Linked DNA regions of Homo sapiens: region 2 is linked to region 1. The links come from fine-mapping of genetic effects on plasma protein levels. Region 1 holds a variant in brackets. A gene starts in the other region. All regions are shown on their forward strands.

The links. A credible set is the group of variants that fine-mapping cannot tell apart. PIP is the chance, under the fine-mapping model, that this variant and not a neighbour inherited with it causes the effect. The UK Biobank Pharma Proteomics Project read protein levels with antibody pairs (Olink). The fine-mapping took linkage between variants from a reference panel, not from the people measured, so its PIPs are less certain.
Region 2: it holds the start of FABP3, and the variant in region 1 is the best candidate, but not a certain one, in a credible set for the plasma level of the FABP3 protein (UK Biobank, PIP 0.61).

What each region holds. Positions count from the first base shown.
Region 1 is chr11:22,247,766-22,250,651 of GRCh38, forward strand. It overlaps ANO5 (anoctamin 5), which reads left to right. Exons shown (of 22, transcript NM_213599.3): 10 at 2,472-2,606. Among named protein-coding and RNA genes, the nearest start is that of ANO5, 56 kb to the left of the region's middle. The variant A/T (reference allele first, on the strand shown) is at 2,559.
Region 2 is chr1:31,371,335-31,374,250 of GRCh38, forward strand. FABP3 (fatty acid binding protein 3) reads right to left here and starts at 1,742. Exons shown (of 4, transcript NM_004102.5): 1 at 1,608-1,742. The coding sequence starts at 1,680. RefSeq lists a silencer at 1,928-2,222.

The DNA.
Region 1 (2,886 bases):
GAAAATGGCAATGCTAAGATTGAGAAAAATGGGCTGATGGAGCATATAAAGTTGAAGACTGATCACTGGCACATCAGCTCTATCAGCTCATTTTTTTTTCCTTCCAGCTTACACTTCAGGTAATTTGTTTTTGATATCCATATGTTGTATGTTAATGCTTAGAAACAAAATTGAAATACTGCTACATACTAAATAGCATAGACTAAATATATGTGTGGTACAGATAATGTTATTACAATGTGAGGATAATACTGAAGCTAAGTTTCTCAGATGTTTATGGATTCATTGTAAAAATAAGTCATTTTAGAAAAAAATGTTTGCATTGATTGATTTATCAAGATTGTATTCAATTTAATTCTATCATCATTCTTTTGATTATTTACTATGTCTTCAACTAAATATTACATCTTGGAAATACAAAATGAGAGCAGTCCCCTCACACAGTATCTAACACACATCTACCTATCAGATGCTGTGTTAAATGGTGCAGTGCCACAGATCAGTTGAAAGTCTAATAATTAAAATGGACAGGTTAAAAAAGATCATAGATTTAAATATATGGCATATTTTTCTAAAAAATAATACTCAAAAGAAGGCTCTCCCTATATTTGAGCTTTTGTAGAGTGTCTCATGTTATTAGATTTCTCTTATTTTCTTAGTTATGACTAACAAGATAGTTTAAATTAAATATTAAATGTGATTTCAATAATGTATGCATTTTTACCATATTGCAAATCTAAGAAATATCTCCTGCTTTCTGAGATCCTGAAAGATTATTTCGTTGTTAATCTGTTACTGTTAGATACCCAAGTCCAAAGTTTAGTAAGATAATTTGTATATTTCCACATGTAATAAATACTTACCTGATTTCATTTAGTAAATTCTCAGCAATTTCTTTTTTTGACAGGTTTAGAGTTCTTGAGGGATTTTGTTTTTTATGCTCAAGGAATAAGACTTGTGACAATTGAAAAGGAGAAAAAAGTAGTACTTTAAAACTAAGATTGTTGAAATATCCAGTTTCCTTATGAATACTTAAAGAATTTTTAAGTTAAGTCTATAGCAATAATGTTGATATTATATTTCTAATAACATTGATTCTGCCATTTTTAAAACATTAAAAATAGACATGGTAAACAGTAAATTTCATAAAATATATTTTTGTACTTTTTCTGATTTTGATGTCATGTACTATTACAATAATTTCTACATTTTTCAGAAAAAAACTGGGAGAAAAAGTTCATTCACTCTGAGTAAGCTAAGGAAGTTGTGAATGGCAGATTAGCAAGGGAATATGATGGCATTATAATTTAATTTCAAGTTTATAGTGATCTGGAAAACCAAATTAGGGAAATTAACAATGCAACAATGTTCATCATCACTGAAAAGAATGAAAAAAGACAGGATAAACAGAAAGATGCCTATTAATATTAAGAGTGTTGAAATATGAAGAATGGGATGTTCAATAAAGTTAATATTGAATATGATAAATACATTTTAAAATCTCATTGAGAAAAAATGTTTATAACCTTTATGTTCAGATATGTGTTCTTGTTAAGCATATATAGAAATTACAATTTAATATTAAGTACTTTCACAGAATCATATGGCATGCTACTAGAACACAAAAGGTATCACATCTTTCTGCCTAGGAAACTGTGGAAAGACTCACAGATTTGGTGAGCTGGGATCTATATGAATAAGGAGGAAGATTAATCAGGTTAAACAACAACAACAAGAAAACCTGACTTTCTGAGGAGGAGAAAACTACTTTCTCTCATTCCTAAATGGGTACTAAGTTAAAAACAAAACACTTGGTTGTGAGAATTAAAATGTTGTGCCGATAAACGCTGTCACTTTTCAATTCTTTGAAAACCAAGAGCTAGGCTGCATATTTCATAGAATTTTTGCTAAAGTAGTCATGTTTAATTCCTTGGCCTGCTGCATATGTCACAATCCTGTAAACATCCAAGATTCAAACTTGGAGAAAGATGGAAATGTATATCTACAATGCGGTCAGAGAAATGTTTTCAGTTTTAGAGAGATAAAGCAAAAGTCCATGCAGATTTTGGATATGGTTTTGATTTGTTAAGTTCATTCCTAGAAATTACATTGTAGAATATTCTGTAGTTTATTTAAAAACCATTTAAATTCTCTTTATAATACAGAGGCTTTCCAAATTATCTTATTTAAATTTTAAAGTTAAATTCCGTTTAATTGGCTTTCTACTTATATCTGTTATCCCTTTTAATCCTTGTATCAGTCCTTGCAGTATGGCATAAGCACCATCTTGTGTTAAAACATGATAATGATATGGAAACTGAAGTTTAGAGAGTTGAGTAACTTCACCAAAATTACATGTCTAGAAAGCAGTGGAGCCAAAATTAGAATATATGCCTGTCTGAATACAAAATCAAGGCTCCAGACTATAACATTCTTCCATATTCTGATTCTGTTTTTACTCTTTTTCACAGGAATTATTATGGAGAAAAAATTGGTATCTATTTTGTCTTTCTTGGATTTTACACAGAAATGCTATTCTTTGCAGCTGTAGTTGGCTT[A/T]GCTTGTTTTATTTATGGCTTATTATCAATGGAACATAACACAAGCAGGTAAGTGCACCTGAGTTGCCCAGATAGAGAAAACATCTTTATCTTGTGCCAAATGAAGTTGTTGTTATTATTTCCCTGGCATTTCCTTCAGAATGTTTCCTTATAGCAGCAGATAATCGATATTTTCCAAAAACTACTCAAACATAACAGTTGCCTCTCACCTGGTGCTTTATGGAAAATCTGTTTTTAAAGCTGGGCTCTGAAAACTCTACTCCTCAAAGCATGACTTGACCCACTATAGAAATTGCTGCTTGATTGCCCCTTCTGTTATATGTGAGAA
Region 2 (2,916 bases), not on the chromosome of region 1:
ATCTACCCAGAGGTATGGAGTGTTTGAAAAGGAAACCACTGCGGGATGAGTGAGGGTCTGAACCAAGAGAAACTAAGAATATTGAGCTGACAGAATTTAGGAGACTCAGGGAGATCTGGGTTCTACTTAGAAATGAAGCCAGCACTACTTACTGAGAGCTGAGGAGGGTATTTTCCCAGGCTTTCCATTCCTACGATGAGAATGCTGGCTGCCTTAACATAAGCTGCTGAAAGATAACAGGACTTCAGGGAGACCAGCCCGCTGACCCAACTCGGGGCAGAATAAGGGAACAAGAATGGTAAAGTTGTTGCAGCTCAATTCAAGACTCAGCTCTGGCCCAGCTTTGGAAGGAGGAACTAAATCTGGGCATTCCAACTTCCCAATAGCTGCTGGGCTGTGTTCGTGGGGGCTGGGGGCTGCTCCTCTAAGAATGACTGCCTGCCTAGAATTACTGGGCATAGCGCCCAAGATAGGGTAGAGGCCGTTGAGAGCTTTGACCTCTCCATCTAAGCCCAAAGCAGTAGAAGAAGGGCTGAGGTCAATCATTAGCTAAGCAGTTTCTACTTTTCTTCCCACTCGCAGGGCCTGTAGGGTAGTGGGAAGAGCTCTGGGTTACAGATCTAGAAACCTTAGATTTTCATATTGGCTCTGCTGTGGAATTGTTATAATACATTTCTACTCTCCTGGTTTCAGTTTCCCTGTTGAACTAGATGGTATGGGAATCTCCAAGTTCCTCACCTGTGAGATTCTTTGAATCCTGATTCTTCTCCATCCCAACACCACAGCAGTTCTCCACATCCTCCTAAACCAGTGATCCTCCCTCCCAGGTCTTGACCTTGCCTTGGGACCCTCTACTGCACATCAGAAGTCCAATGGCTTTCTCTGCCTACCCCTCGCACAGATAGGTGAGCCTTGGGTTGCAGGAAAGGCCCAGCTGATCATGGGCCTCTTGCCCCACCCTACCACGAGGCTCACAGACAGTGATGAAGGCCTGGATACATAGACTGCAGGACAAGGTCAGACTGGCTGGTGAGAAAGGGCATTCTCCAGCAAGAATTCTCTTCCCTAACCAAGCAGAGATGGGGATTGCTGCTTACTGCAGGTTCCTGTCTTACGTCCTTCTCATATCTGATTCACTGATCCACAGTTTTTTCCCCACTAATCTTTTTCCTCCTAGGTATTTCCTACTTGTTTACATCATTGTACACTCCCTGGCTGCCCCATTCCCTTTCTGGGTTCAGTCTCCTCCAATTTCTAAACTACCCATGCCCCTGTTCTTTTTCTCCCCTGGCTACACTCCCTTTCCTGTGATCAGTGTTCTTTATCCAAACCCTCCTCCTACCTCCAAATCACATATCCCTCTTCCTGGAAAGAGCCTCCCACACAGCTGCCTCCTTCCACCACCTCCCTACCGTGGTCTCTAACCAGATTTGGACCACCAAAGCCCCCTCTGAACAGGCCCCACCTGCTCTAGGCCAGGCTGCCATCTCCGCGCTCCCCTATTCCCCAGTCTTAACCAGGAGGGATGCGGCAGGAGTGCTGCGTGGGGCTAGGCACGCCACCAGCCAGTCCCCAAGCCAACATCCTGAGCCCCGCGGCTTGCTCACCGAGTGACTTCATGTAGTCATCGAAATTCTTGCTGTCCACTAGCTTCCAGGTGCCCAGGAAAGCGTCCACCATAGTGATGCTGGGCTAGGCTGAGAGAAGCTACAAGAGAGCAGGCGTGCAAGGGCTCCGACGGCGGCTCCCTGCCCGGGCTGCCGCTTTAAATAGCCCTCGCATCACATGAGGAGACGTGGCCCACGCCCCCGGCTCCCGAAATAGGAAGCCCCAGGCTAGGGCTCACCCAGGAGGGGCTGGTGCGCCCATCCCCCAACCCACCGAGGTGGGTGGGGACCAGCCAGTGGCGCCCTGCTAGCCTGCGTCAGCGCCAGTGCCTGGCCCCCGAGTCCCTACCCCAGGCTGGTAGGACCTTCTCCCTTTCCTGGCCTCTAGGCACTCTGGAATCTGAGAAGGAAGCAGCCAACACCAGCCCGAGAGCTAGGGCGCATGCCATGGTGGATATCTTCCCGTCCCCCAGTCCCTCTTTGAGCTTAGCGTCAGAGCAGAGATGAGACTAGAAAAGCAAAACGCCCTTGGGCTGGTGCCCACGCCGGGGAAAGCTCTGGTTGACTTCTGGCACGGGCATCTGTCCTCGTTTTACAAGTGAGGAGTCCGAGGCTCACAGGGGAACTGACAAGGTCTCAAGAAATAGGAGGGGGTGAATGGAGCTCAGATTGCAAGCTTAGTCTAGCGGGCTTCAGAGCTCGCGCTCTCCCTTCACTCTCACTGCCTGGTGGCGGAGACAGTCACCAGCGGCTCGGTCTGCGGCTGAGCTGACCTTGTCCTCTGCCTGTTTTGAGCAAAAGCCTGACCCTTCGCGCCCCGCCCGCCTCACACGTGCTTGCCCCTCCCTGCGGAATGTCTCCTGCTGGCCCTCCTCCGTCCCCACCCCACCCCACCATCTAGCTCCCCACCCGCCCCTGCAAGTGCTCTGGGCTTTTCCGGTTTCTTCGCACAGCTCCGAGCTTTAGCTCAGGTCGTTCCCAGCTCCCCTCCTGCAGAAATTCTGCCAATTCGGTCAGCTCTTCAAGGCCCATGGCTGCCTTCCCCACCTGCCGCCCTTTCTTTGGCCTGTGCACACTAGCAAGCCGCCTGCACTTTTGGGTAATTTGCTGCCTCCTTTCGAGAGCCTGTTGTGCGGTGGTTTGTCACTGTATAGTTTACTAAGCACTTTCAGTAAAAATAAGACCTGCCTTGTCTTGCTATTTATTGCATGCTGAGGGCTTTGGGTGTATTGTTTCATTGAACTTTTTATTTTATTATTATTTTTTAGAGACAAAGTCTCTCGCTGTGTCTCCCAGGCTGGAGTACTGT